Linked DNA regions of Homo sapiens. The protein of the gene in region 7 purifies or fractionates together with the protein of the main gene of each other region. This does not show direct contact. Each region holds a gene or a part of one and is shown on either strand. Other genes may lie near its edges. The genes, in order: XRCC1, HLTF, TNKS2, TMEM171, KIF1A, AMOTL1 and RNF166.

Evidence for each region.
Region 1: the proteins of RNF166 (region 7) and XRCC1 purify together in Homo sapiens (affinity purification with mass spectrometry; 2 studies listed by BioGRID and IntAct, with this or other methods). This does not show direct contact.
Region 2: the proteins of RNF166 (region 7) and HLTF purify together in Homo sapiens (affinity purification with mass spectrometry; 2 studies listed by BioGRID and IntAct, with this or other methods). This does not show direct contact.
Region 3: the proteins of RNF166 (region 7) and TNKS2 purify together in Homo sapiens (affinity purification with mass spectrometry; 3 studies listed by BioGRID and IntAct, with this or other methods). This does not show direct contact.
Region 4: the proteins of RNF166 (region 7) and TMEM171 purify together in Homo sapiens (co-immunoprecipitation; one large-scale study listed by IntAct). This does not show direct contact.
Region 5: the proteins of RNF166 (region 7) and KIF1A purify together in Homo sapiens (affinity purification with mass spectrometry; 3 studies listed by BioGRID and IntAct, with this or other methods). This does not show direct contact.
Region 6: the proteins of RNF166 (region 7) and AMOTL1 purify together in Homo sapiens (affinity purification with mass spectrometry; 3 studies listed by BioGRID and IntAct, with this or other methods). This does not show direct contact.

What each region holds. Positions count from the first base shown.
Region 1 is NC_000019.10:43,564,902-43,569,210, forward strand, and holds part of XRCC1 (DNA repair protein XRCC1), read right to left. Parts: intron 1-4,309. UniProt on the Homo sapiens protein: Scaffold protein involved in DNA single-strand break repair by mediating the assembly of DNA break repair protein complexes. Negatively regulates ADP-ribosyltransferase activity of PARP1 during base-excision repair in order to prevent excessive PARP1 activity.
Region 2 is NC_000003.12:149,076,234-149,080,542, reverse strand, and holds part of HLTF (helicase-like transcription factor), read left to right. Parts: intron 1-4,309. UniProt on the Homo sapiens protein: Has both helicase and E3 ubiquitin ligase activities. Possesses intrinsic ATP-dependent nucleosome-remodeling activity; This activity may be required for transcriptional activation or repression of specific target promoters.
Region 3 is NC_000010.11:91,860,522-91,864,830, reverse strand, and holds part of TNKS2 (poly [ADP-ribose] polymerase tankyrase-2), read right to left. Parts: intron 2,833-4,309; coding exon 2,676-2,832; intron 1,895-2,675; coding exon 1,832-1,894; 3' UTR 1-1,831. UniProt on the Homo sapiens protein: Poly-ADP-ribosyltransferase involved in various processes such as Wnt signaling pathway, telomere length and vesicle trafficking.
Region 4 is NC_000005.10:73,118,839-73,123,770, reverse strand, and holds the start of TMEM171 (transmembrane protein 171), read right to left. Parts: upstream 3,197-4,932; 5' UTR 3,075-3,196; intron 466-3,074; 5' UTR 398-465; coding exon 1-397. Other genes in the region: uncharacterized protein LOC124901001, read left to right, coding at 3,342-4,043.
Region 5 is NC_000002.12:240,809,903-240,814,211, forward strand, and holds part of KIF1A (kinesin-like protein KIF1A), read right to left. Parts: intron 1-4,309.
Region 6 is NC_000011.10:94,872,602-94,876,910, reverse strand, and holds the end of AMOTL1 (angiomotin-like protein 1), read right to left. Parts: 3' UTR 163-4,309; downstream 1-162. UniProt on the Homo sapiens protein: Inhibits the Wnt/beta-catenin signaling pathway, probably by recruiting CTNNB1 to recycling endosomes and hence preventing its translocation to the nucleus.
Region 7 is NC_000016.10:88,699,318-88,703,626, forward strand, and holds part of RNF166 (E3 ubiquitin-protein ligase RNF166), read right to left. Parts: intron 4,265-4,309; exon of another isoform or gene 3,473-4,264; intron 2,102-3,472; coding exon 1,945-2,101; intron 1,634-1,944; exon of another isoform or gene 1,624-1,633; coding exon of another isoform or gene 1,303-1,623; exon of another isoform or gene 417-1,302; intron 416-416; coding exon 303-415; intron 1-302. UniProt on the Homo sapiens protein: E3 ubiquitin-protein ligase that promotes the ubiquitination of different substrates. In turn, participates in different biological processes including interferon production or autophagy.

The DNA.
Region 1 (4,309 bases), on a different chromosome or scaffold from region 7:
CTTCCGGGAGCACTAGAGGAGAACGTGTCTCCTTGCATCTTCGGCTTCTCGAGGCCACCTGCCTTCCTTGGCTCACAGTCCCTTCCTCGTCTTCAAAGCTGCTGAAAGCGCTGGCATCACTCCAGGCTCTGCTTGCATCTTCACAGCTCTGGTTCCAGCTCTCTTGCCTCCCTCTTTCCCTTATAAGGCCTCTGGGGGTTACGTGAGGCCCACCAGATAATCCAGGGCACTCTCCCCATCTCAAGATCCTTAATTTAATCAAACCCACAGAGCTCCTTTGGCCATTAAAATATTTCCAGGTTCTGGGGATGAGGACATGAACATCTTTTGAGCACCACTGTTCTGTCCACCACACTTGGCTAAGCATGGGCCGGGCATCACTGAAGCCTCAAAACCACTTTAAATAGAAGGGTCTGTTACGACTCCAGTTTCACAGATGGGGAAACTGAGGCTCAGACAGGTTTAATCAATAGCTTACATGGCACACAAGCTAATAACTAGCAGAGTACTTCGGACGCAACTGCCTGACTGCAAAGCACTGTCCAATACCACCACTGTTCTCAACTCCTTTCTTTCCATCCCTGAGTCAAACTCAACATCTTTACCTCTCCCACAATATTCAGCATAGCTCCTAAATGTGGTAGGATGGAGATGCTTGTATTTTAAATGAACAATTCCTACTGCATATATAACTATTTCTACTTTAAACAGGCACTCCCTGACATTTCTTCTTTGTATATAAAAAAAGTCCTGGCTAGGAGCACTGGCTCACGCCTGTAATCCCAGCACCGTGGGAGGTGGAGGCGGGAGAATCACTTGAGGCCAGGAGTTCGAGACCAGCCTGGCCAACATAGCAAAACCCTGTCTCTACCAAAAATAAAAAAAGTTAGCTGGGTGTGGTGACACGCACCTCAATAATCCCAGCTACTCAGGAGGCTAAGGCACAAGAATTACTTGAACCTGGGAGGTGGAGGTTGCAGTGAGTTGAGACGAGCCACTACACCCCAGCCTGGGTGATAAAGTGAGACTCTGTCTCAAGAGAGAAAACAACAGGCTGGGCACAGTGGCTCACACCTGTAATCTCAGCACTTTGGGAGGCCAAGGCAGGCAGATCACTTGAGGCCAGGAGTTCAAGACCAGCATGACCAATATGGTGAAACCCTGTCTCTACTAAAAATATAAAAATTAGCCAGACTTGGTGGCGTGCACCTGTAATCCCAGCTACACAGGAGGCTGAGGCCAGAGAATCACTTGAACCTGGGAGGCAGAAGTTGCAGCGAACCGAAATCATGCCACTGCACTCCAGCCTGGGTGACAGAGTGAGACTCCATCTAAAAAAAAAAAAAAGTGGCCAGGCACGGTGGCTCAGGCCTGTAATCCTAGCACTTCGGGAGGCAGAGGTTGGCAGATCACAAGGTCAGGAGAGTTCAAGACCAGGCTGGCCAAGAGGGTGAAACCCCGTCTCTAGTAAAAATACAAAAATTAACCAGGCATGGTGGCAGGCGCCTGTAATCCCAGCTACTCGGGAGGCTGAGGCAGAGAATTGCTTGAACCCAGGAGGCGGAGGTTGCAGTGAGCCAAGATCATGCCACTGCATTCCAGCCTGGGTGGCAGAGCAAGACTCTGTCTCAAAAAAAAAAAAAAAAAAAGTAAATAAATACTTTTTAAGAATCTGATAAAAATGTTTATACATGGAGGCTGGGGTGGTGGCTCACGCCTGTAATCCCAACACTTTGGGAGGCCAAGGCAGGTGGATTTCTTGAGCCCAGGAGTTCAAGACCAACCTGGGCAACACGGCGAAACCCCGTCTCTACTAAAAACAGAAAAATTAGTTGGGCATGGTGGCATGCGCCTGTAGTCCCAGCTACTCAGGAGACTGAGGCACGAGAATCACTTGAACCTGGGAAGCAGAGGTTGCAGTGAGCCGAGATTGCACCACTGCATTCCAGCCTGGGCAACAGAGCAAGACTCAATCTCAAAAAAAAAAAAAAAAAAAGGTTTATATATACATGGTAACAACCCAATAAATGTCCATCAGTTGATGAATAGATAAACATTGTACAGTATATTTATGGAATATCATCCAGTTATTTAAAAAACTGAAGTTGTGATATATGCTACAACATGGATGAACCTCAGAAACATTATGCAAAGTGTAACAAGGTTAAGTGTAAAAGACCACGTATACATTTATAAGTCCAGAATACGCAAATCCAGAGAAGCAGAAAGTAGATCAGTGGTTGCCAAGGGCAACATTGGGGAGAGAATAAGAAGTGACTGTTTAATGGTTATGTGGTTTCTTTTTGGAGTGATGAAAATATTCTGAATTAGAGAATGGAGATGGTTGAAGAACATTGTCAATATGCTAAAAAAAAAAAAAAAACCCTGAAATGTGCACTTTATTTATTTATTTATTTATGTTTTTTGTTGAGACGGAGTCTCACTCTGTTGCCCAGGCTGGAGTGCAGTGGTGCAATCTCAGCTCACTGCAAACTCTGCCTTCCAGTTCAAGTGATTCTCTTGCCTCAGCCTCCCGAATAGCTGGGACTACAGGCACGCACCACCACCCCCGGCTAATTTTTGTATTTTCAGTAGAGATGGGGTTTCACCATGTTGGCCAGCCTAGTCTCGAATCCCTGACCTCAAGCAATCCACCCGCCTTGGCCTCCCAAAGTGCTGGGATTACAGGTGTGAGCTACCGCATCTGGCTGAAATGTGCACTTTAAATGGTTAAAACAGTAAATTTTATGTGAATTTTTCTCAAAATAAGAGATGAGTGCTCAGTATGTATCAGCTGTGAGGATAAGAGCACAAGATGACTATCACCGATGGCCTGGGTTCGTGTGCATGCAGCTTTCTCAGGGAGACACAGTTCTGATATGAACTGTTCCTGAAACAAACATGGCACAGGAAGGCAAAGTTCCTGAGATATATTGCTAAAAAACTGTTTCACATCCATGAAATGCAATCTTTTCTTTTTTTTTTTTTTTTGAGACAGAGTCTTGCTCTGTCACCCAGGCTAGAGTACAGTGGCACGATCTCGGCTCTCTGCAACCTCCGCCTCCCGGGTTCAAACAATTCTCCTGCCTCAGCCTCCCAGGTAGCTGGGATTACAGGTGCCCACCACTGCACCTGGCTAATTTTTATATTTTTAGTAGAGACAGGGTTCCACCATCTTGGCCAGGCTGGTCTTGAACACCTGACCTCGTGATCCACCTGCCTCAGCCTCCCAAAGTGCTGGGATTACAGGCGTGAGCCACCGCGCCCGGCCATGAAATGCAATTGTATGCATCATTTAAAAGAATAAGGTAGGCTGCGCACGGCGTGGCTGACGCCTGTAATCCCAACACTTTGGGAGGCCAAGGCAGGAGGATCACTTGAGGTCAGGAATTCAAGACCAGCCTGGCTAACATGGGGAAACCCCATCTCTACCAAAAATACAAAAATTAGCCAAGCCTGGTGGCATGTGCCCGTAATCCCAGCTACTAGGGAGATTGAGGCAGGAGAATCACTTGAAGCTGGGAGGGGGAGGTTGCAGTGAGCCACGATCGCACTACTACACTCCAGCCTGAGTGACAGAGCGAGATTCTGTCTCAAAGTAAGTAAGTAAGTAAGTAAGTAAATAAATAAATAAATAAATAAGGTAGAACTTCATGCAGTGTGCATCTCCAAAATACACTGTTACTTGAAAAAAAACACACAAGGGAACAGTGTATATACTATGAATTTTTTAAAAAGGGATGGAGGCGGTAGGTATATATGCTTGTATGTGTACAGAATGACCCAGGAAGACCACCCAAAAAAACTGCTAATGGTGGTTGCATCAGGAGAGAAGAATGAGGGAGCAGGAGTTGGGGAGGGAGCAGGAGTTGGGGAGGGAGCAGGGAGGGATGGAAAGGGTGAGGGGAGATTTTCTTTTTAGTGTATACCCTTTTGCACCTTTTGAATTTTGCACTATATGCATATAATACCCATTCAGAAAGCAAATATAATAAAACCCCAATGGCCAGGTCTTTGTGGCTCTGTCTGTAATCCCTGTAATCCCAGCTACTCAGGAAGCTGCCTCCAAAAAGCTTAAAAAAAAAAAAAAAAATTAGTTGGGTGTGGTGGTGTGCACCTATAGTCCTAGCTACTCAGGAGGCCAAGTTGGGGGATCACCTGAGATCAACAGTTCAAGACCAGCCTTGGCAACATAGTGAGACTCCGTTTAAAAAAGAAAATCAAATATAAATAAATAAAACCATAATAGTTATCTCAATACAACAGAATACTATACAGAAATGACAATAGGCCAGGTGCAGTGGCTCAT
Region 2 (4,309 bases), on a different chromosome or scaffold from region 7:
CAGTGGCAGAGGGGTGGCGACTGGGAGAGAACATAGCTCTGCCTCATAGATAATATCTCTAAAAGTCTAGAGATGAATATCTGTCTAATACTCTGTTTAGTTCTGGCTGTAATCTCTTGAGTCAGTAGACATGCTGGGAGAGGTTTGAAGCAGCTTTCTTGTATATTTTCAAGGAATTTTTTAAAATTGAGATACATTTATTATAAAATTTACCATTTTAAAGTGTACAGTTGAGTAGTTTTTAGAATACTCACAAGGTTGTGCAACCATCCCTACAATCTAGTTCCAAAACATTTTCATTACTCCAAAAAGAAACCTCATTCCCATTTGTAGTCACTCCCATTATCTCTACCCCTCAGTCCCTGGCAACCATGAATCAGTCTTCTTCCTGTGTATATGGATTTACCTCCTCTTGACATTTCACGTAAATGAAATGATACAATATGTGGCATTTGGGTCTGGCCTCCAATACTCATTTTTATGTTAAATAGATTTTTTTTTTTAGTGTACTATTTTAATTCCCTTGTTTCTTTTACTATATATTTTGAGTTACTTATGATTGCTTTAGGGATTACAATTAACAACTTAATTTATAAGAACCTAGTTTGGATTAGTGCCAACTTAACAGTATATAAAAAACTTTGTGGCTGGGCATGGGGCATGGTGGCTCACGCCTGTAATCCCAGCGCTTTGGGAGGCCAAGGTGAGTGGATCACGAGGTTAGGAGATTGAGACCATCCTGGCCAACATGGTGAAACCCCATCTCTACTAAAAATACAAAAATTAGCTGGGCATGGTGGCACCTGCCTGTAGTCCCAGCTACTTGGGAGGCTGAGGCAGGAGAATCGCATGAACTAGGGAGTCAGAGGTTGCAGTGAGCCGAGATTGTGCGACTGTACTCCAGCCTGGTGACAGCAAGACTCTGTCTCAAAAAAACAACAACAAAGAAAACCCCAAAAAAACCTTTGCTCACAGCTCCATCCTATTGCCTTCCTTTGTGCTGTTATCCAAGTTATATCTTTATATATGTAGTATACCTATCAACAAAGATTTATAATTATATACTTTTTAATGAGATAGGACAAAAATTACAAAAAATTATACTTAAAAATTTTTATTTTTTTAAATAATTTTTTTTTTTTTTTTTTTTTTTTTTTTTTTTTTTTTTTAGAAACTGTCGTTACCCTTTTGCCCAGGCTGGTCTCAAACTTCTTTTGACAGTTTGATTATGATGTGACCAGGTGTGGATCTCTTTGAGTTTATTTTAGTTGGAGTTGTTGAGCTTCTTATATGTGTAGAGTAGTGGTTTCCATCGAATTGGGAAGGTTTTGGCTGTTATTTCTTTAAATATTTTTTCTGCCCCTTTCTCTTTTCTCCTTATGGTACTCTTATGTATGTGTGTTGGTATGCTTGATATTACAAGTTTCTGAGGCTCTGTTGTGTGTCATTTTTTTGTTCCTTAGATTGTATAATCTCAATTGACCTATCTTCAGCTTCGCTGATTTTTCTTATGCCTGCTCAAATTTGCTGTTGAGTCTCTCTGGTGAATTTTTTCTTCAGTTATTGTACCTTTTGACTCTAGAATTGCTGTTTGGTGAGACATCGTCTCCATGCTTTTAGACATGCGTTTTCATGTCGAAAGAAATGATTTGCTTTAGGTCTTTGAACTTATTTTTTTTTTTTTTTGAGACGGAGTCTTGCTTTGTCGCCCAGGCTGGAGTGCAGTGGCACGATCTCGGCTCACTGCAAGCTCTGCCTCCCAGGTTCACATCATTCTCCTGTGTCAGCTTCCCGAGTAACTGGGACTACAGGCACCCGCCACCTCGCCCGGCTAATTTTTTGTATTTTTAGTAGAGACGGGGTTTCACTGTGTTAGCCAGGATGGTCTCGATCTCCTGACCTCGTGATCCGCCCACCTCGGCCTCCCAAAGTGCTGGGATTACAGGCGTGAGCCACTGTGCCCGGCCAGGTCTTTGAACTTTTTAATTTTTTAGAGATAGGTTCTTGCTCTATTACCCAGGCTGGAGTGCAGTGGCGTGATCATAGCTCACTGTAACCTTGAACTCCTGCATTCAAGCAGTCCTCCCACCTCAGACTCCTGAATAGCTGGGACTACAGGCATGTACCACCATACCTGGCTAATTTTTCTATTTTTATTTTGTAGAAATGGGGTCTTGCTATGTTTCCCAGGCTGGTCTCAAATTCCTGGCCTCAAGAGATCCTCACACTTCAGCCTCCTAAAGTGCTGGGATTACAAGTGTGAGCCACCATGCCCAGCCCCTTTGAACATATTTAAAATAACTGACTTAAATTCTTTTTCTACTATGTCAAACATCTATACTTTCTTGGGGACAGTTGACATTGATTGCTTTTTTTCCCTGTGTATAGACCATACTTTCTTATTTTTTTTGCATGTCTTGTACTTTTTTTCTTGAAAAATTGACATTTTAAATAATGTGGCAGCTCTGGAAATCAGGGTGGTTTGTTGTTGCTGAGTTTTGTAATTAGTGTGTGTTTGTTAGGCTTCTAGGGTGGTTTGTTGCTGAGTTTTGTAATTAGTGTGTGTTTGTTAGTGACTTTCCTGAATTAATTCTGTGATGTCTATCCTTTATCGTGTGTGGTCACTGAAGTCTGTACTTGGTTAGCTTAGCGGTCAGCTGATGATTGTGCTGGAACTAATAAATCGTACATTCTTTGCTGAGAACTTCTGTATGTTAGGGCATTCCTTCAACACTCTAAGGCCCCTGACAACTCTGCTTTAGCTTTCACTTCTGGCTTGTTTAAATGCTCAAGTTCAGGCAAAGGTGAGCGTTTAGGGCCTTCTCAGGTCTTTCTTGAGAATGTGCACAGCCCTGGTCATGCATACCAGCCCTGTGCTTGCTTACGGCCTTCTAGATATCCAGAAATACACTGGAGCTTTTCAAAGCCCTCACAGACATCTCATTCCCTAGCTCTTCTTTATAAGCCTTTTTGTTTTTTTGCTTCAGCTGTTATCCACTGCCTCAGGTAGCCATGAAGTTAAAACACTTTCCTGTAAAATTGTTTTGACAAACATCCGCCCAAGGGAGGTTTTTTTGTACTTGGTGAGCTCAGAGGTTAAATACAGTCAGCCTTGCAAGTGGGGTCTTCCGGGGAACTTCAGGAGAATAACAGTTCTTTGGGAATGAATCTCTGAAAGAACTGTAACTCCATTCTCTTTTTTTCTGGTGACTGCCAGGCTTTACCTAGGATCCCAACAAGCTATTATTTTTATTTATTTATTTATTTATTTATTTATTTATTTATTTATTTATTTTGAGATGAAGTCTCGCTCTGTCACCAGGCTGGAGTGCAGGGGCACTATCTTGGCTCACTGCAACCTCTGCCTGCCGGGTTCAAGTGGTTCTCCTGCCTCAGCCTCCCGAGTAGCTAGGACTACAGGCGCGTGCCACCACACCCAGCTAATTTTTGTATTTTTAGTAGAGACGGGGGTCTCACCATGTTGGCTAGGATGGTCTTGATCTCTTGACCTCGTGATCTTCCCACCTCGGCCTCCCAAAGTGCTGGGGGCGTGAGCTACTGTGCCTGGCCGTGAGCTATTTTTAAAGGCTACAGGATTGCTGGGGATGGGACTGAAGTACTGATATTCAGCTGTTTATTCTTTTTATTCTTGAATAAATGTTACCCAGATTTCTGCAAGCCTTTGATTTAGTTCTCAGTGTTCTGAAACATTTGATTCTGACAAATAATTTATCTAGTTTTTTTGTTGCCTTTATTGAGGAATTTTTGAAAGTCCTCATTCTACCATTCTTTATTGTGTTACCCTCCTTCAGTTTTTAAAAATATACATCATAATATTTAAGTTAAATCATACAGTTTTTAATAAAGTAGAATCAGAATGGCATGAGTTGAAGGCTGGATATATTTTTCTTACCTAGTTCCATCCTGACTTATAAATGCCTTATTCCCTGACTTTTATATTCTGGAGAATTGAGGCTCAGGAACCACCCTGTGTGGGTTCAGATCCTAGCTCTGCTACCTTTTAGCTTTGTGACCTTGGGCAAGTTACTTTTCTGTGCTTCAGTTTCTTCATTTGTAAAATGGGAATAATGATAGTACCTCCCAATAGAGCTGTGAGGATTTAAAAAGTCAGTCTGTGCAATGTACTTAGACCAATGCTTGGCACATAGTAAGCGCTCAATAAGGGTTGGCTATTTTTCAGAAGTTATGATGTTGAAAATTTTAGATAATTTGAATTTGCTAGTTTACATTTGACTATTTTTTAAGACATTAAGGATTTGTTAACTTCCTAATGAATATAGATTAGAAA
Region 3 (4,309 bases), on a different chromosome or scaffold from region 7:
AACCCCATTAATTCTCTCATTATCTTCTAATTATAAAACCTGGAAGCTTAGATAATCTGAAAAATTCATATAAAATTTGGCATACTCCACTTGTGTTCCAAGAAATGACTTTCGGATATTTGTAATTATTAGAGAGCTGTATAAAAAGCACTTCAAGATCAGGATTTGACTTCTTAAATAATGATCATAATTTACATCACAGAAACAACTCCAGAAATGCATTTACTCTGATTAACTCTTACTCAGGACAAGGAACATGATTTTCTAGCACTTTATGTACAAGTTACTGCAAAGGGCCAGTTAATTTACAGACTGAATAAAACGTAAAATAAAGGTGAACTGGTACAGACAGTGATGGGGAATGTCCTCATTAAGTGAGTAAAGATCTTTCCTCGACTTTGAAGGGAGCTAGAGTCAACAAATAAAAGAGATTGCCAAGCCATAATGGATGTATGTCTCTGTAACAAGATGCTTAAGCATGCTTCCTGGAAAAGAGTTTTATATTAGAAAATAGGAATGGCATTTTATGGGACAGCATTTCCTTCTATAGCTGCCAAACTGAGCACAGGCGTGGTCACCATATGGTGCACAAACTGACAGCATATTTCCAATTGGGCATAACATCATGGAGAGAAAACCCAGGAGCAAGAAGCACCTGTTTCACTGCACTTGCCCATTCAGGAGGCCTGGAGGGGACTGAGACAACTACATTTTATAGTTCTGGGTTAAGTTTACCCATGATGTATAGATTGGCTATAAATACAGCAATAAAACCAAGTAAAAAGAACAGGAAAAAATATACTTAGGATAAAAAACTACCCAGTCCTGTTTGTGATTTTTTTTTTCCCCTTTAGATTTAAGGTAATTAGAATAGATTGGGAAATGATTTAGGATTACCCTTCCCACCCTGGAAATGTAACATCCTACTTATGTTCCATGAAAAGAACACAATAATTGTTCAACAGCAAGATTTAGTTTCTCTAAAAAACAGGAGCACTTTGCTCTAATTTTCACAGAAGGACTGCAGAAAATTTTCCAACATGAAAGCTAGAAATTGAGGCCAGTAAAGAAGCTTCTTTAGTAATCAGGACCTATCATAGTTAGAGCTCTTTGGAATGTGTCTCATACATACAAAGGTATCACAAATTAAATCTTCAGCATATTCATAAGTTCTTAAATGAGAAAGATTTCTAATGACAGATAAAGGCTCCCATCGGCAAATTAAATCTGATAACTCAATCTTTCCCAACTAACAACTGAACATAGCCTCTGGAATCAAATGTAAAGATCACTCAATCATGACGATGTAAGATGAAGTATAGATGAACAATACATATGAAAAAATTTTGTAAACCGCTGCAGTTCTAAAACAGATTTATATTACAAAGCAATGTAAATAAATACTGGGCTAGTACAAAAGCTCTTATTTACAGTTTTACAAATGAAATTGTATTCAGTGTAAATGCTGTGTTTTAAAGAACACAGTATTGTATTAGTAAAATTAGTTCTGTTGAGGGCATTACAGTTTGTTAGAATCAATGCATAACATATAAAAGGTTCAAGTTAACTCTGTTTATAATTTAGTACAGACAACCCAGTTTAACCTGGAATGGCATCTGTTAAAGTGCTGAAAAAACAGGAAATATTTAGAAAACACTGTACATTATTAAAGCTTTATCAAGTCAGAATGTTAAACTTCGTTCACATTTTTATCCTTTTGCCACAGGCCTGTGGGCAAGATGATTTTTTTTCAGCAAAGGAGTAAAACGTAGAGGCCACTGCTGCTTTGATGATTTTAGGTTCAGTGGAATTAGTTTCTTAAAATAACTATTTATCCATCGACCATACCTTCAGGCCTCATAATCTGGTAAGTAATTAAATACTCAGGATAAGCCTGGAAGAGAAAGATAAATTCAAATAATGGTACAAAAATTTTCTTGAAAGATAAACAGACTTTCCGGAAGTATTCCTAATCTTAGGGAGGAGGTTCTAAATTACTGTTGTAGATCAGAATCATCTAGGGACATTTTCTCAAAACATCTTTACCCTGAGTACAGTTCTTCAGATTTTCAATCAGCAAGTCTAAGATGAATACTAAGTTCATAAGTATCAGATAAGACTAAAATCATGTCTGATTTTAGTAACTGCGGTGATTCCGATACCTACTCCCAGTTCACAACACTGCTCTAGAACTACTTTTGGCTCTCACTGAGAGCAAAACACAGTTATATACTTCTTTGCTATGGACAGGCTGTTAAATACAAGATTTCAATTATTTATAAGAGCTAAGAAAAATCCGGAACGACTGGCGAAATTTGAATAAAATCTTCTTGTTTTTAGGAAATTTACAATTGAAATAGTTAATGGTAAAGGGACATGCCCTGCAACTTACTCTCAAACAGTTCACAAAAAAATAGGTACACACACAAGGAAAGAAGGAGAGAATGGTAAGAGTAAAAAAGAGAACAAAATATTAACATTTAGGAAATCTAGGTAAAGGTTATAAGAAAATTCTCTTTACTATTTTTGTAACTTTCCAAATCTGAAATTATCTCCAAATAAAATTTTTAAAAAATCCAGTTAAGGCAATATGTCTTGTCAATTCAAGAGATTAATAAAAAGTTAAAGTATGCCTCCCTAGCATTTTTGAAGATGAACAAATAAAACTACATTACCTGTTCTCCTCTGTAAATAACATATTCAGCTAATGCTAGGCCATTTACACTGGGCCTACCAGTGACTGAGTGATGACCTGGAGGAGAATGTGCCATTTTCATTGCACTGAACTGCAGGAAAGACTTTCCCAAGGTTACCCGGCAAAAGAGCAGCTGCCTATAAAACGAAAAGGAAAAGATCACCCTGAAGTCAAATTTGATACATAAATATGACAATGTGTGGACACGGCATAAGTTTTAAAAAATTATTTATACATAAATACTTATAATTGTTTTTATCATTTCACCCCTAAAAGAACTTTTTAAGAATGTCTTCTATTACTCTTATTAATGAAATAATTTGTCAATTTAGTTAGTCCTTATTTTAACTATAAAATCTGAAAAATGTAATAACCTTATAGAGATACAGACTCTACCACCTTGTTTGTATCTCAGCAAAAAACAAAAGTCACTGGCCAAGTGGGAAGGAGAAGGTTTAGTGGACTTCCATTAAGTGGCTTGCAAAGTTGGACACATATCTAATTAACTCCAGTTGATTTTACCTTCAAAATATATTTGAAATCCATTTACTTTTCTTAATTCTACTGTCACTATTAAGTCAAATCACTGAAATATTCACCTGGACTATCACACAATGGCTTTCTAAACCAGTCTTCCTGTTTCTTCTGTAATTCCTGTCCAAACCTTTCCCATCCAACTAATTAAAACAAACAAAAATTAGATCAAGTCACTTTTCTGCTTAAAACCTTTTAGAGGCTGTCACTGTACTTGGGAGAAAATCCAAATTCTGTACAATGGCTCCAATTTCTTGAATCTCATTTTATGTTCATTATGCCCCATGCACATTAGTTTTCTTTTCTTCACAAAGGCCAAACTTGCTTTATTAATGGTCCCCATCCACAGAATTTTCTCCACCATTGGAATGTTATCTATTTTACCACTCTTCCACTGGCTGATACCCACTCAATTTTCAGACTTCAGCTGAAATGTTACTTCCTTAGATAGGAAGTAAACTGGTAGTCTCCCCTCACCACCAGTTTCAGTAGATTACCCTCTCACTCCTCTCAGGCATGTGACTAGCCTTTCTTAGTTTCAAACAACCTTTTAGTATTAACGTCATTGTTTCTTTTTAGAAGATAACAGGAGATTTCTGTAGACCAGTTGATGGTTCTATCTTCCAAAGAAGAGGGAGGTATTAGAATGCTGCTTATTACTAATAATCAGAACTATTTAGCCTTCAGACCATATATGACAAATAAAAACAGCAGTGTTCAATTTACAGGAAATTACATGCCTCCTAACCACTCCAATTTATGATCTAAAATAGAAGTGAGTGGGACGTCATACATAGGAGGGCCTACTGTGTACTACCTATGCAGGCCTAAATTTAGAGGGGTAACAGTAAGAACAAAACAAACACAAAGAAAGAACCTGTTTCCCTCCATGACTGCAATTCTTCAGCTCGGAAGCCCTTTGAAATCAACTGGGAAGCTTTTAAAAATTCTAATATCCAGATCATGCCCCAGACCAATTAAAAGAGATTCTGTGAGGGTGGGACACAGGCATTAATAGTTTTTTAATATTCCCTGGGTGATTCCAATGTGCTGCCAAAGTGCAAAGTACTGCTCTAGGGG
Region 4 (4,932 bases), on a different chromosome or scaffold from region 7:
CCCAAATGCCCAGGACGCTGATGAGCATGCCGCTTGTCAAGAACAGAAACCCAAAGATAAGGCACTGGGCAAACTGGCGGCTCTCTCCACAGATGAAGGCTCGGTCGGGGTCCATCTGCTGACCTCTCTGCAGCCCTGCACGGAGCTGAAGTTGCGCCCGGGAGCGGGCCAGGATCACAGCCCCAAGCCCAACCACGGCACATGCAGGCCCCGCCACCTTGAGCACCATGGGGCAGTCTGGGAGGGGCTTATATTGGCATGCCTGGAACCCAAAGATGGAGAGCAGGACTCCCACACACAACAAGACGGCGCCGAAGACAAAGAAGCAGAAGATGAGTTTGCTGACGTGTCTGTCCTGCTGGTCCCCATCTGGCTCAGCAGCAGCTGCAGGAGACATGTCCAGGAGAGGCCCCTTCCCGGAGGCAGGGTGGGATGTGTTTTCTTCCCTCCAAGATTTCAGCAGCTCTGCAAACACAACCAAACACCAAATTAACGTGGGCACAGGTGTTCCAGAACCACCCTGGTTTTTTGCTGATCATTTCTGAAATCACACCACAATGAGGCCTTGGGGGTAGAACTTTATACAACTGATAAGCTGTAGAACAATGAGTTGGTTTATGAGTCAGATAAACTAGCATTCAGAAACTCCTAAATATGTAATTTTACAAGATATTCAAAACAGGAAATTAAATTACTACACATCTAAGGGTATCTTTTTTAAAAACTGAAAGAACAAAAGTAGCTGGGTGTGGCATTTCCTTTTCTGAGTCTTACAAACTCATTTCCCTGGGGAAAAAAGCACTGGTGAATGAGGGAAGAACCACAGGGATTCTTTCTGATTGCAAATGCCCCACTTTTCATCATAGCTGCTCTCAGCATTTTCAAGTCAGTTCAGTAACTAACTTTCCATTTCCTGTTTTAGACTACAGCAGCTTTCCATTTCATGTTTTATTCTAAGGCTACATCTACAAAAGACCCAATTTCAGCAATTTCAATAGAATAAGAAGTCTGTTCAGGAACACAGTGGGTTTGGTGGACTTTTAAGTTGATTCTATCAAAATGTGGTTCTTGAGGCCAGGCGTGGTGGCTTGCGCCTGTAATCCCAGCACTTTGGGAGGCAGAGGCAGGCAGATTGCTTGAGCTCAGGAGTTCGAGACCAGCCTGGGTGACATAGCAAAACCCCATCTCTGCTAAAAATACAAACTTTAGCCAGGCATGGTGCCTGTGGTCCCAGCTACTTGGTAGGCTGAGGTGGGAGGATTGCTTGAGCCCAGGAGCTGGAGGTTGCAGTGAGCCAAGATCACGCCACTACTCTCCAGCCTGGGCAACAGAGTGAGACCCTGCCAAAAACAAAACAAAACAAAACAAAATGGTTCTTGGGTTCTCAACAAGCACAGACTGGTGACCCAGTTGCTTGGATCTGGGATGACCCTGGAAAGTGTTGCACAGCAGGTCAACAGGAGCTCAATTTTCAGAGTGGACAGGTACCCAAAGGCTGGTGTGGCCTCTCACTCACCCTCCTCCATGGTGTCACCTACTTCCACAAAGAGGTTGAGACTCAGTTAAAAAACAAGCAGCCAATAAAACTGCTAGTTATAAAGCACAAAATGGGTGGAAGGGGGGAACTTGGCTTTGAAAGAATAGTATAAGTGGAATCAAGTGAGAAAGCACCTTCCAGAAAATCACCCAAGCCCTGTACTTCAGGGGTATAATATATTAAATATGCCAAGTGGTTGTTAAAGAGTTGTCTAGCTTACACAGAGCTGACCTAATTATCTCGTTATCTTATTTTACTCCAATGAATGGGATATTTTACCAGGACCCCGTAAGTCAGGTCCTGCAATTGCAAAGACAATCCAAAATCGTGAAGACTATTTTCACCTGCCCAAGGAAAGAAAACTTTTAAAATATTTTGTGCCGCTCACATCCATGGTCCCATGAAGGAACTCAAGACTGAGGCCCTAAGCCCAAGATGATCTTGACAAACCAAAATCACACTGAGGGAAGGTCAGTTTAGGTAAAGAAAGCAAACAGGCAATCTTACACTGGGAAAAACTTTTCCAGGAAAAAGTATGATAGAATCAGAAGGAAGTTGGAGAAAAAAAGGAAATATAGGAGGGAAAAAAGCTTTCATTTCAAACTTGGAAAAACTTGATATACAGATGCAGTTAAGCTGAGACAAAGCATTGCACTAATTTTTTAATCTTCCCATTTTTTATTAAGTCAGTAACATCCTGCAGTGAATAAGAATTTCATATTGAGTATACAGTAGTCCTCATTTATCCTACAGGGAGTACATTCCAAAACTCTCAGTGGAATGAAACGATGGAGAGTCCTGAAACCTATATATATTGGTTTTTTGTTATTGTTGTTGTTTTAATTTTTTTCCTGAATCATGCAATCTCTTTTGCGGTTTCGGAGACAAGAAAGAGAAGGGTGATTCTCGGCTGCAAAGTCCTATCAGGAATTCATTTATTCCCAGTATAGTCAACTTTGCAGTGAGTCACAAGGCTTCAACTGTCTTAAGGCAAATTCCCAAACACCAGTAAATAGAAGCCCAAAACTGAATCTGTAGTTTCTTGTCCGTGGACTAGTGGACGGAGCACCTGGCTGAGTGTTCACCTCTGATCCATAATAGTGTGGAAATACTCTCTCTCTCTCCTTCTCCCACAGATGCACTCACAAACGGATACAAAGACACCCACATTCACTCGCAATGAAACCTTTTCCAAACACCACCCTACACTTAAACTCCCCAAAGCCAAACTCCCCTCTCCAACACTCCTATTGGTTTTCCAAAAGACATTTCCAAAATTCACAGCACCTCTCCACGTCCAAAGCTATGGTGCGTTTGGGGAACGAAACGAGAGGCAAATGCCTTCTGTGCGAAATCGGTTTGCGGCTTTTAGGGAGCCCGAGCGCAAGCAACAGCCGGAGGGGCTCGCAGGGACGCAGGTTGGGCTCGGATACCCAGCGCCTCCGCGCTGCCGCGGCTCCCCGCGCCCAGCCTGGCCGCACAGCTCAGCGCCCGACCCGCCGCCGCCGGCGCAGGCGCGCGGGCCGGGGCAGCTTACCTGAAGCTGGGTCCGGCGCCTGGCTGACCGCGCTGCTGTGGGCACTGGCTGGGCGCGGCGTCCGCCTCCGCACGCGGCCTCGGCTGCGCCGGCCGCCCTGCACCCTACCCACCGCGCGTCCTGGTGCGGAGGGCGGACCCGGCAGTATTTAGAGAAGGAGGCGGTGCTGCGCGGGCGCGGCGGCCCGGGGAGGGCAGGGCAGGGCAGTGCAGGAGCGACCGGTGGGAGCTGGCCGCCACTGGGGGCCCGGGGCGCGCCCGCGAGGGAATGGAGAGCCAGGGGCGGCTTCGGAACCCAGGGCTGGCGGGTTTGGCAGCCTCCGCGCTCGTGGCCGTGCGCGCGAGGAATCTGGGAGAAATGGGCACCTTCCACGGCTGCCTGGCCCGCACACCTGGCGGGGCCGGCGAGTTGAGATGCCCCCGCCGGCTGGCGGAACTGTGCGCCCCGCCCGCCGAGGCCCGCTCCCCCTCGAGGCCTGAGGCCCAGTTCTATAGGGGCGCGAGAGAGCGGCGGCGTGGGGGGCGCGGAGGAAGCGCCGGCCCCCGCCTCCACCGCCTCCTTCGTGGTTGCGGCCCAGGCCGAACAGGGTACCGTGCCCCGGCCGCCTTGGCCTTGGCCACCGCGAGGTCCGGGGCGACTACACCCAGCAGCCCTGTGGCCCTCCTACTGCTCTGGAGACCTGGAGTGGGGTTACAGAGGGAAGCGACTCGCTGCGAGCTCCCCATCGAATATGGAGCCACCAGGTCACGGGACGACGTGCGCTCTACAGAATGTGAGACAAGGGCCCTCCACACCCAGCCATTCAGGCCTGAGGTCCTGGCTCCGAGACTGAGGCCGAGACGCGGCAAGCCCCGCGCCGGACCAGCTCTGCCCCTCCCGCACCCACGTGTCTGCGCACAGCCCTCCTTTGCGATAGAACCCCCTTCCTGGTTCTCCACCACTAATGATCTGCCGGAATTAAACTGGTAACTTTCCCTGCCCTTGAACCGGGAGTTTCGGGATGAGTTTGCCAATCCCTGTGCTATTTGTAACCAGCCCCGTGACACGTGATACGGATCCAACTGTGCTAGTTTCCACACCAGGGGTCAGGGCACGGTGGAAGGTGAGTCAAGGGTTCTCTGCCCAAGCGCAGAGGTGCCCTGAGCCACGGGGACTTCCCAGCCCTGCCTTCTCTTCTCAGCTTCCTGTCTGCCTTGCCTGAAACCCTATCTAGAGTTAAGGCCAATGGATGAAACTTTTCAATGTGCAAGCAAGCACTTTACCTACCTGATACAACAAGAGATTCCTGGTCATGCTCACTGAAGGTAAAGTATGAAGCAGGCTTAGCTAATCATCAGAGGTGAGAAGAGACTTAAAGAACCAGTCAGAGAGGTAAAGAGGGGAGGGGGTTACCTGGGCTTTAGGGTTCACCAGGGAGGCAGAACGGACAAGTTCTTGCCATTGGAATTTGGTGGGGCACTTGCCTGGGTGGCCAAAGGTGGACTTTTTCATAGCCAGGGTGCCCGACCTCTGTAAATCCCCGCCATAACTAACAGCCCTGATTACTGTCGAAATGAACAATGCCAACACTCACGACCCCTTGCTTTGTGGTTCTTTGCTACATCTCTCCAGCAGTTCAGAAAAGGTTGGAGGCAGCAGGGGACAGGAGACTGAGAAAAACAGTCATTTGTCAGTTGAGGAAACTGAGGTCCAGGCTGACAGAGGTAAAGTAACCTCTGCAGCTGGTTGACATGCAGAGAAGGCCTGAGCCAGATGCAGATGCGCTGACCATTCAGTGTTTCTCCCGCAGCACACCTGTCACTCAGAGAACACACCATGCTGTGAACCCAGAAAACGCCCTCATGGCCTTGTGATGCCA
Region 5 (4,309 bases), on a different chromosome or scaffold from region 7:
GTTTCTTGTGCCTCAGTCACCCAAGTAACTGGGGTTACAGGCATGTGCCATCACACCTATTTTTATTTTTATTTTTATTTTTTGTATTTTCAGTAGAGATAGGGTTTCGCCACATTGGCCAGGTTAGTCTCAAGCTCCTGGCCTCAAGTGATCCACCCACCTCGGCCTCCCAAAGCGCTGGAATTACAGGTGCGAGCCACCGCACCCAGCCGGAAAGATTTCTTAACCCACCGAAAACACCAAAATGAAAGTTTGGGTATCAAAAGATATCACTAAAACGGTGACGAGAACCCCACCCACCTGGAGAAGGTATCTGCAACACATACAATTCAACGAAGGATTTGTACGCAGAATACACAGAGGACAGATAAAAATAAAAATTTACAAAAATCACAGAAGAAAATGGGCAAAAAGATATGAACTGGCAATTTACATGAAAAGATACTCAACCACGATAGTAATTCGGAAACCATATTTTCAAACTGTATCCACCAGATGGCAACATTTAAAAGTAGGGCACACCAAACGCTGTCAGAAGGAGGCCACAGGAGCTTTTACAGCTCACCTTGGGAGTGAACGGGTGCCACCACTTTGAAAATAACATGGTAACATCTGGAGGGGCTGCAGACCTTGTGCCCCAGCAACTCTGCAAGTAGAGATGCTATACATATTCACAGGGAGAAATACACCCAAATGCAGAATGACTTATCATTACAAAAAGAATGGAGACAGCCCAAATGCCCAGCATCCAAGATGCAGATGAATGCAGAGTCGGCTGCAGGCCCCTCGAAGTTTCAAACACACAAGCAGCACTCCACAGACTCAGGGCAGACGATGACACTCCAGGAGCGATCAGCACCGAATTCATGGTGCTGGGCGTGGAGGGGGTCTAAGGGCCTGGACGCCACCAAGGCCACTCGATGTGCCCGCCATGGTGACGTGGAAGGACCTCCTTCCCGCCAGGCCCCATCTGTCCGTCTTCCTCCCCAGGGTGATGTGGGTCGGCCGAGATGCCGGGTGGTGGTGAGCCCTCTGCCAGTGCTACCCTTGGGGAGCAGGTTGGAAATGCCTTATTTTGAAAGCTAATGTGGGCATGTGGCCGTTGGTTGTAATATTCTGTATTCCTTGTTGTATATTTTTGCTACCACATGACACAATTTTTAAAGATGTAACTATTGGCCGCGTGCAGTGGCTCGTGCCTGTAATCCCAGCACTTTGGGAGGCCGAGGTGGGCAGATCACTTGAGGTCAGGAGTTAGTGGCCACCCTGGCTTGTAACATGTTGAAACCCTGTCTCTACTAAAAATACAAAAATTAGCTCAGCGTGGTGGCAGGCACCCATAATCCCAGCTACTTGGGAGGCTGAGGTAGGAGAATCACTTGAACCCGGGAAGCAGAGGTTGCAGTGAGTAGAGATTGCGCCACTGCACTCCAGCCTGGGCTACAGCGTGAGACTCCATCTCAAAAAAAAGAAAAGAAGAAAAGAAAAGAAAAGAAACTATCTTCAAGAAGTTGTTCTGTCAGCCAACCTGAGAGGGAGCCACGTGGCCCCAAGGGTGGCCAGAGCCTATGGGCGTGGCTGATGGCAGAAGGCAAAGCTGAGGATGGGGGTCTGACACAGCTGAACCCCTGAGAAGGCGGGGGGTTGCGGTCCACAGTGCCAGACACAGCACATGCCAGAGCCCAGGAGAAAGGGTGAGCTCCCCTCAAAGACAGAGAGGGGCACCTCTGGGACAGGTGGGGCAGGAAGTCATCAGAAACAAGAAGCATGAACTGGTCCTGTGGGGTGAGGTCACGCTGGCTGGAGTGGCCAGAGATGAGGGCACAGGCTCAAGGGTGGCAGGGAGGAAGCCAGAGGGGTTGGGATGACTGCTCAGAGCCAAAGAAGATGCCGAGAAGCTGGTGGTGGCAGGGTGGGGTCTGCGCTGGGGACATAGAGGCAACACCACGGGTGTCTGAGGCTCTGACTAGACCCAGGATGCACCCACAGGAAGTGGGCAGAGAAGATGGCCCGAGGGCAGGAGAGGGAAAGAGGGCTGGGGGATGGTGGCCATCCATGTGGGTATGTGGGTATGGCCAGCCGGCTGTGATGACTCCAGGAAAGGGAGACCATGAGCCCTGAGCCAGGGGCCCCAGGACAGAGGAGAGGGGAACAGAATCCATTCACTTGGTAAAAATGCATGCAGAAAACCCACTGGGCGCACCGGGCCACGCCCCGCAAGTCACTGCAGGCACAGAGGGCAGGGTGGCCCCGGAGGAACTCCCCTGTTGCTTTGGGGCTCTGGGACCATTTCAGGTTCCTGCCTCACCCTGGGGTGGGGGCATCAGCAGAAAAAGCCAAGTCCCTGTGGAAGGGGGCTGGGGGTGGCACCAAGGCAGATGACAAAGCGTGCCTCAGCTCGAGGAGTGTCCAGGAAAGACCAGGCATGGGGTGACGGTGAGGGCCAGACACAGGCCTGGCACAGGCACTCCCTGCCCAGCTGCTGGAGAGGCCCATGCTGCAGAGCATCGCACAGGCATCCGCCTGGAGCCCAGACGCCCTTCACCTCTGGGTCTGCCTTCACCTCAGGGGCCCGCCTTTACCTCGGGATCTGCCTTCACCTTGGGGATCCACCTTCACCTGGGGATCCACCTTCACCTCAGACATCTGCCTTCACCTCGGGATCCACATTCACCTCAGGGATCTGCCTTCACCTCAGGATCTGCCTTCACCTCGGGATCTGCCTTCACCTCTGGGTCCGCCTTCACCTCAAGATCCACCTTCACCTCAGGGATCAGCCTTCACCTCGAGATCCACCTTCACCTCAGGCAGGGATCAGCCTTCACCTCAGGGATCCGCCTTCACCTCGGGGATCCGCCTTCACCTTGGGATCTGCCTTCACCTCTGGGTCCGCCTTCACCTCAAGATCCACCTTCACCTCAGGGATCAGCCTTCACCTCGGGGATCTGCCTTCACCTCGGGGATCAGCCTTCACTCGGGGATCCGCCTTCACCTCGGGGATCCGCCTTCACCTCGGGGATCAGCCTTCACCTCGGGGATCCGCCTTCACCTCAAGGATCCACCTTCACCTCGGGGATCCGCCTTCACCTCGGGGATCCGCCTTCACCTCGGGGATCTGCCTTCACCTCAAGGATCCACTTGCTCCCAGTTAGACAAGTGGCCCGCCATGTGCACACCCAGCAGGGCCAGCCCAGAACAAAGCATCGGCATGGGCCACTTCCTGAAACACTGATCCTTCTTGAAGAGTTTGAGAAAAAAACCACAGCAGGTTTTTCTTAGAATTACAACCGATTGTCATAGAGGAGTGTCCTGGCCACCCCTGGAGAGTAAGGAGCCCCAGGTCCAATGACTGCAGGCACACTGGTTGCTCTGAGACCCCATGGGATAGGGCCAGAGCCCACCACACAGCCCCCAACTGCAAAGGGCGTGGGAGAGGCGTTTCCTGGGACCTCAGCCCTGAGTGCCGCTTGCAGAGGGCAGGGAAGGGGCAGGGGCTCAGGCATGGGAACTCAGGCACCTGGTGGAAGGCAGGGGTGAGAAGTGAGGCTAACATGGAAGCCCGCACCCCCAGCCCCGCCATCCACCCTCCGAGGGTGGTCACTGCCAGTGCCCCCAGGTGAGCAGCTGAATGGCTTTCTCCATAGCAGGAGTGAAGCCTTCAGTGAGCTGAAGAATGCAGTACCCCTCATTCTGATATGCAGGGGCAGCTTGGTAGCCAGCCCCACCCCTTCACCTAAGCCAGGGCCTGCCATGGACACCCCACCCCCCATGGACACCCCACCCCAGCTCTGGTCAGAACCACTCCGGGGTGAGCAGCAGCAGCCCTGCCGCTCCCGCCAATGGCCTCCCTAACACATGATGTGCCAACTAATGCCTTCCTCGGGCGTGAGAACAGAGTGTGAAAGGGAAGGACCAGAGCTGCCAGCAGAAAACAGGCCCTGCGGGAAGGACAGGCAAAGCATGGAACAGACGCGAAACAACCGAGCACAACCTCTGTCCACGCACCCGGGAGATTCAAGAAGATGCTCATTTTCAAAACAAGGGCAGAATGCTATGAGACAGAACATTTAGAAACGTGAAGATTTTAGAGATGAAAAATGTAAGAGATGAAGTACAAGATTCCAAAAACCCTAGAAAAGGCAGTCAAAGGACTTTAGAATATAAACAAGGAGACAGAATATACAAGAGAAAAGCAACCAAACAGACCAACCCATGAATTCAGGGTAAAAGAAAAAATGAAAAGGAGGAAATTACGAACAAATAGAAGTAGAGACCCTGACTTCAGTGTGAAGGGCCCACCGAGTGCCAA
Region 6 (4,309 bases), on a different chromosome or scaffold from region 7:
CTTTCTCCTTATTTGTCTGGAGGAGCCAGGAGTGGGCGGGCTGCAAGCTGCGATGGTCTGGATGATTCATTTCCTCCTCAGAGTCAAGAGCTGCGTGTTGGTGTCAGCGTGAGGCCCACAAGGGGGGAGCCGAGGGCCTCTGAAGCAAAACATTAAGTGGGGTACAATGAAATGAAACATTTATTGAGCATCAGTTTATAAGTTCTTTAAGGAAGAAAGGAGCAAGCGAGAGAAAAGAGTCATTTTGCCATTTTATCCATTTATTATGTACAATATTAAGGCACAAGTTTAAGCAGCAAAGGAGAGGAAAATCTTTGGCTGACCAACAGCATCAATATTTGCTGTGGGGGACAGGCAGTGTTCTTGGAATCCCCACACTGGTACACAGACCCATTTGGCTGTATGGCCATGTACATCACCCCTCAATACAGACTGGCAATATGAAGACGTCAAACGTTACAGCCAGATACCAGTCTGCTGGGAAGAGCCGGCACGAGCACGGCACACTGCCACCAAGCACAGCGACACACACACACAGAGCAGGTTGGAGGGCAGCGGCAGCAGGACAGCTGAAATCGGGTGCCCATGCTTACCACTGTTTCACAGAATTTTACACAATTCTGTAAGTGCTCATGGAGGAGGAGGCTCCCTGTTCCTCCTCAAAAGGAAAAAAAACAAAAAACAAAAAAACACCTTGATTCAAATAAAACCAATGTGGATATATTTGCTTACATTCCGTTTTGTAATAAATACTTACAGGTGTCTCTATGTGAACAGACTCCTAGGCACAATCACATGTAAACACAACACCGGGCATCCAGACTTTGGGGGCTGATACAAGAAAACGCTGTATATGTAGTTCAATATAGAGAGAGCAGTATTCTAATTCTGTGAAGAAGCAAAGTTTCATGACAAAGAAACACCCCAGTCACATCATAACATGACAATAACATGCACTAAAGTAAACACAGTTTTACAGAATACCTACCAGATGTTTATATGAATGATTATGCACTTATATCTGTAGTGTATGCAGAGATGTGAACACATAGGAGGCATGGCAAGAGAATTGATTTTTAAAAATCTGTGTGCTAATGAGGATGATCCCCCCTTGAAGTGGACACTTTGAGAGGCTCTGAGGCCAAAGACTCATTCCAAGAAATTTCTTAGGGATTTTTTTAGAAACAAAAATGGTGTAACTTACCTTAATTGCCATCTTTTTTCATCCAACTGTGCTATCAAGCACTTGAGATTATTTCCAGAACTTAAATCCATCCTCAAAGGAGGAGGATTTCTCATCTCTAAGGGTAAACCAAAGGAACATGCCAAGCCCTGAAGGCCATTCTAGTAGAAGAGTTCCCAAGATATTTTTACTTGGCAGCACTATAGTCAATGAGCACATAGTCTCCCAAAAGACACCTTTTAAGGAGGGCGGGGTGAGATGAACACTTTGATCTTCTGTATGTTAGGAAAAGAAATTCCCACAAACAACCCTATAGTCATACCTCATATGTATGCACTCACTTATACACATGTCTTTATATACCATTAAATTACTAAGTGAGAAAAGGGTATACTACTTAAGAGAAAGAGGAAAAATTGCTCATTTGTTCCAGGAGAAATTCACTACTGAAATGCTAACTTTTGCATTTCCCCAGCCGACCAATTTCTGGTAACTTCTTAATTACTTTGCCTATCTCCCATGGAGCCACACGTCAGAGGCAAACTCATTAAACAATCGTCACATCTAATGAAGACATTTTAAACACTTTAATTACTTAAACAACAAGAAAAGAAACATTTATAAAGCATATACCAAGGCTGTCTCAGGTTTTAGGATGTGGAGAAGCCAATGGTAGGCTGGATACTCTCTGGCTACTTAAAGCCTTACCCATTTAAGAACATTTGTGGGATCCCACTGACTATGGTCATGGTACTCCTTTGCTTAAGAGGAGTGCAAGATCATTCAGAGAACACAGAGAAGCATGCTCCACTTACTCCAGCGTGGACACTGGTTTTGAACCCTGGTTTTGAAAAACACATCTCTTTGCTCAGCATAACTCCCTGCAGTCAAAACATGAGCCCCCTGCCTCAAAAGCTTTTAATGCCCCAATCTATTATCCACTGCTTCTGAGGTCCGCAGCCTCACCTGAAGTCTGTGTCCCTAAGTCTCTGGGACTCAGGTCAATGGGGAGGAAGAATTTCCCATTCTCTCAGCACCTGGCATGAAGGTGCTACAGCCACTGCATCATGAGGGTGCGCACCCAGGTGAGAACAAACAAGAGTAATGACTGGCTGCTCTGCACGGGGCATTCTGAACACCTCCTTCCTGAGTAACAGAAGCACTGAATTCTCTGTTCCAGGTTCAGAACTAATTTGTTGCAACTGTTTTGGTATCCATGCCAAGCCTTGTGGAGTCAAACTCATACATGAGTTCCAAAGAGCAACCCCAGAGGACTGCACCCAGAAGGGCTCCACCACTGCCTGCTCTCCCAACGAAAGCCTGAGGAGGGCCAAGGCAGCCCCTGCCCTGCGTGCATGGTTAGAACATGCTGAACTCTGCAGTGTCACTGGCTGCCAGCCTCTGGGAGGCAGAGAAAATGCTGAGAAGAAAACGCTAAGAAAGGGTTCTGCACATGCTCTGAAAGTTTTGGAAGATAATGTGTTTTTCCTGGCAGCTTAGCTATATGGACCTGCAGACAGTAATAGTTCTCATGTACAGAGGCATCTAATTAGTGAAACTCTAGCTTCAGAGACCTGACTCCAACTTCTCCAGTTCCATATAATATCCTGGCAGCACACAGAAACTGCCAGACAACGCAGTCAAGGGTGAAGCAGAACAATGCTGGAATACCTTCCCGTGAAGCCAGGGCCTCTCCCCTTCATCCTGAGATAGGACCCTCAAGTTCTATAATCAGGCTCCACTGGGAAAGTTTGAAGTCCAGGTCTCTGGGAAGTGCAGAAATATTTTTTAGGTATAGTTTGGAGCTGTGCTTCTGGTGGAACACAATAATTTCCATCTATGCCTAGCATTTATAGGTGATTCTAGGAGTTCTGGGCTTAGTCCTATTTCTTAGGCTCTGAGATGTGTGATAGCTGTGTGTGTGTGTGTGTGTGTGTGTGTGTGTGTGTGTAGTTACACGTGCACACACACATCACAGACAGGCATAGAGACTGCCAAGATGCAGTGCCGCATGTTAGAGGCTGTACAGCCAGGGTCTATGCCCAGTGCCTCTCCAAACTTTGTTTTAAATCATCCTAGCTTCTCCTGGCTGTGAGATTTCAGGAAGGGACTTAACCTTTCTGAGCCCATTTCCTCATCAGTGAAATCAGAATAATAAACGCACCCCCTGTACTCCAGGTGGGTGGAGGACTAATTAAAAGGTATTTACCACACTGTTTGCATACAGTTGACACTAGAAAATATAGTTGCATTATTTTTCTGAAAATCTGTTTAAGATATTGTAAGCTGCCCAGAACTCAGAGCAGGTACTCAGTATATGGCCGGACTTCAGGAAAGCTCTAATGATGAAAGAATTTAGTGCCCTGGCTTGGCAGGAAATTTCCCATAGAAGAAGACATTTTAAAGCTATAGATCCTGTTCTTAAGGAAGAGTCTCAGTAGGTTAAGAGAAAAAAAATACGGTCAAAGTCCAAAATACAATGCCGTTGAAGCCCTGAAACATGGCGATGTGTCTGTTTACAATGAAAACACTTGGCAGCTCAGGGGGACCTCGAAGAGCAAGCAAGTCTGACACCTGATTGGGGCAATCAGGTGTCTGGGGCATGAAGACGAGGCTTCGGGAGAAACAGCTGGGTCTCTCACTCTAACCTATGTCTAAGGGAGGCAGCCCAAGTTTGGGGTGGCCCAGACCTGATGGTAGGGGCTGGCAGAGTTGATTTACCTTCCTATCTCTAGACATTTTCCTTTCTGGTCCATCCCCAACATAAACTGGGGTCAAAATGTCCTTAAGAGAGTTAGCTGTCATCTCCTAACTCATCTCCTATGAAATGTGGTGGGAACAGAGATTAGGAAGGGATGTCTATGCCCTCTCCCCACCCATGTCCATCCTCAACCCTTTCCCCCATGGATGAGGCCTCCTGTGCCCTCTTCCCACACCCTATGGCATGGGGTGAGCTCCATGCTCAGCCTCTCAGAGCTCCTCAGTTTTCCTGTCTGCACAACAGGTACTCCGATGCTCAGTGTGAGACTAGAGGAGGTGATGAGCAGGTGGCACAATGTGCAGTGCCTATGGCCAAGCAGAGCCCCAGAGGGCCAGTTCCCACTCCTCTGTCGTACTGGGTGGCAC
Region 7 (4,309 bases):
CTGCCCTGGCAGGAGCCGTCTCTCGGCCCATCCACCTGCTGGGAGGCGATGTGTGGGCCCGGCCTGCGCCCTCCTCCTGCTCCCCACAGCTGAGCTGTCCCTACCCCAGGGGGCCTGGTGGGTATGCCAGGGAGGGCAGCACAGGAGCCTTCCTGCAGGGTGGCAAGGAAGGTCCACTTCCCCAGAGTGGACCCGGCCCCGGGTGACTCCCCCAGCCTCTCTGGGATGGGGCACTGCGCTTGCTCCCAGAACGAGGAAACCGCCGAGGACAGTTCCTCTCCCTTGCCCGGCAGCGTGCCTACCTGGGGATAGGCTGTGATGTGGGCACCACGGGGACGAACTTGGGGCAGTTGGCCATCTGCTCCTGGACCTTCAGGCAGGACGAAATGTGCACTCTCATCTTTGCCAGGGTCACCTAGGAGACAGGGCAGGGAGGGCAAGGCGGTCCTGAGAATCTGGAAGGGCCGTCCTGGGGAGGCCGAGACCTCAGGTGTCCAGGACCAGAGAACTGTAAGCAAGCGTCTGTGTTGCCAGCAGCAGGGGGACCCGGTCCCTTCTGCTGCTAAAACAATCTCAGGCACTGAGCAGCCACTACTCCATGGCCAAAAGCAAGTCACTGCAGGACAATCTGGCCGAGGGCAGAAACCTGGCTGGAGAAGGGTAGCGGGAAACAGGTAAGGAGATCTCTGGCGCCTGCAGGAGTTCAAATACTTGCTCCAGAAAAAGGAAGAGGCCAAGTGGAGGCCACTCAGAAATGCCCCAGGCTGGGGACAGACGCTTCGTGTGACTGAGGGGCAAGCTGGGGATGCTTCCGTGGAGGCAGGGCGCCATCCTCCACCCACAGCACACCCACTGTCCAGGGCAACAGGCTGCAAGATCGCAGGTGTCTGAGGCCCTCCTGGACTCAAGCTCGGCACCCAGCTCTGCCTAAGGGCTGCTGGACTCCGAGGGATGCACCACATTCCAGCAAGGTGCCGGGAGACACAGCCGCATCTGAAGACCCAGATTAGAGAACGGAGCTGCTGTGGGATACGGGAGGCCGCTCTGCATGTGACCGGTTCTGATCCTTTCTGGCTGCCCAGGAGAGAAGAACTCTGAGCAGGGAGAGACGGGAGGTGCCCAAGCACCCAAGACCACAGCCTGCTCAGCCGCACCACTCTGGAGTCCAGGGCAGCCCCTGGACATCTGGACCTTCGACCTCGAGGACAAACCACCGAGGGGCCACGTACTAGTGTGAGCGCTTCATAGAACTTATTCACCTGAGATGTGGCAACGTCGGGAAACGCAAATGCAAAATCACCTCTAGCTGCTCAGTCCTCCGGAAGCCACTGAAAGAACGGGGCGCTGGCTGGGGCCTCTCCACCCTGAAGCGGATGTGCCAGGGAGGGCCACGGGGCACGGGCCAGGCACCAGGACAGGATGGACATGGGGGCCAATGAGGCCCATGACAAGCTGCAGGCCCTTACGCTGCTCTGATGTGGGTGTGGCAGTGCCCATCAGCCCGGCTCTGGCCCTCCTGGCAGCTGGAGGGTGCTCGGCCCTTAGATGTCCTTGACTGTGCCCGCGGCCCTTGTGACCTTGGAGCCCCCAGCGCCGTCCCCGGTATCGGCTGGCAGGGGAAGGCTGCATTGGGAAGGTTTCAGCTCAGCCCCCTGGTCCTTACCCTGGCCACAACCCACGTGGGTTCCCCTGGCCCGGGCTAGGCGGCTCTGACAGTGCTACCCCCACCGGGCTGGCCCCCCCGTCAGCCGTCACCACAGGAAGTGAGAGATGAAGACGGGAGGGGAGGGAGGCGCCGGGGCTGGCTTCCTGGTGCAGGAGCAGAGACCGCGATTACTCAACAGGAAAGAGAGAGGGCCCCGGCCCCCACCCTCTGCAGAACCCGTGGGCTGAGGCTGCCCATCAAGTGACCCCGGCTCCAGGGCGGCCCAAGCAGGCGGGTACCTTTTTGTTGCAGCCTCGACAGGGCGCTTTGTAGGATGAGAGCTGCTTCTCCACGTGGGTGGCCTTGTCCACCTTCTTGGGGTCGAAGGGCAGGCGGCAGAGTGGGCACAGCGGGGATGGCACCTGCAGGCAGGGCTGGAGACACTCCCCGCAGAACCTGCAGGGCACAGGGGCCTGAGTGCCAGCCCGCCCCTCGGGTCTCCCGAACCGCAGGCCTTGCTCGGGGCCCTTCTTAGGACCCAGCATTTGTGGGGTCCACAGGGGCAGCTCCCCCTACCGCTGTCGCCGTCTCTGGAGATGGTCACTCCTATGTCCGGGGCCCACCAGCTGGATGGGCCCCATCTGGCTAAAGGGTGGCCCCGGTCCCTCCTGACAGTAGGCCCCTGTGGTTTCTGGCTAGCGGCAGAGCCGTCACTATGGCTGTCCCCGCGAGTGGGCCAGAGGAGCTCCCATAGGCAGGAGGCCCCAGCTCGGGCTACCAGGTTCACGTTCACGTGGCGACAACACCTGGGTGGGCTGTGGGGCGCAGGGACAGCCCGGGGACTCTGGAAACTCTCCCGGCTCCACACTCTGGGGGATAAAACCTCAAACAATCGTGGGAAAGGAAACGGCCAGGCCCCAGGGGCTCCAGATGCACTGGACAGGGAAGGGCCAAAGCTAGCCAAGTGGCAGCACATCCTGAGGCTGGGTGGCAGTCACCAGGCTTGGGACAGCTTCGCAGGCAGGAGGGGGTCCTGCTCCATCTGGGCGGAGGCTCGGGTCCTGGGCACCCATGGGCCCTGGCTCTTGGCACTGCCCCTGGGGACACCACATCGTGAGGACAGACTGAGCGTCCCACAGCCCCGTGCGCACTCCGGGCTCCAGCAGCAGGGGCTTCCTTGGGCTCGCACACCCTCCCGCTCTGCAGACGCACACAGCCCTTGGAGGGGTGCACCACCAGCCAGTGGGAGCACCAGGCGCGAGAGCCCCCAGTGCAAACACAGAGAAGGAGCTTAATACTGGGGCAGCCACATCTGGCCTTGTGAGGAGCACTGTGGGGACAGCTGAGCTGCGGCGAGGAGCTGGAACTGAGGCAGAGCCCCCCAGTCCCAGGAAGGCTACAGCACCCGGGGGTGTAGCTTCCCTTCTCCCTGGCAAGGCCACAGGGCTGGTACAGGAGCCCCACTGGACAGAGGGGCTGTGGGCAGGCCCTGGGTTCACAAACGACTCAGCTGAATTCAGGGCCAGAGTCCTCTTTGCTGTCAAGAGATTTCCACATCCCTCAAGAAAAGGCCCTTTCTGCAAGGAGGAAGTCTGAGGGCCTCAGGCAAAGGTGGCCAAGCAGGCATCTTAAGTCCCTCCTGCTGTCCCCCAGGCCCTCTTTGCCACCACTGGATTCCCACAGAGCCACCACCTGGCTGGTGGCTCCCACATGAAACTTCGTGTGAGAGAAAGCGGGACTCAGCTTGAGACCCGTCAGAAAGTGAACAAGCCTTTTTCTGCAGAGTAAAGAGGTCGCTCACTTTACCCACCTCACCCGAGTTCTCACCAGGCGCCCCAGCAGATATTTCCAGGGTCATCCCTGGCACTGACCCCTGGATTTGAGCCGGGGGGGCCGCCTACTTCACCCGTTCACGGGAGGAAGGTGCTGGCAAGATGGTCCACCTGGGGAGGCCTCAGGGGACCCCCATACTCAGGCACTCATGGCAGGAGAAGCGGAAGCAGCTCAGGTGCCCGTCGGTAAACGGATGAAGAGACGGCGTGGCGTGCACACCCATGGAAAGGGCGTTCGGCCGGGAAGAGGCGTGCAGCCCCACCACGCACCGGAAGGCCTGGAAAACAGTGCAGGGCAGACAGCAAGCACGTCCCACCCGTGTCGTGGGGGTCCACTCACGCTCAACGTCCAGCAGAGAGAAACCCAGTGACCAGAAAGCAGACGGGTGGGTGCCAGGCGAGGGGGAGAGTCCTGGGTTTCTTTCTGGAGTGGGAAGAATCTTCTAGAATTGCATCGATTGTTGCATAATTGCAAACACACTGGAAACGACTGGATGGTGCACCTCCTGAGTGAACCCTGAGCTGCCAGAGACCAGGCCGGGGCTCGGCTGCACAGCACGGCCACGGGCTGAGGGGAAGGAAAAGGGTCCCAGGCAGAGCTTGGGAAGAGAGGAAAGGTGCCCAGAAGGTTGGCTGGGAGGAAGACAGCCTCGTCCTCCCCGGAAGGACTCAGGAAAGACACAAGAGGGAACCCAGCCCGACTGGCAGGGCGGCTGGGCCCGAGGAGCAGGAGGCAGAACGAGGCACCCACAGGGTGGGTGCTCTATCGGCCTAGTTTCCAGTGACTGCCAGCCTGGTGTTCAGAGAGCCAGCAGCCGGGAGTAGTGCCCGC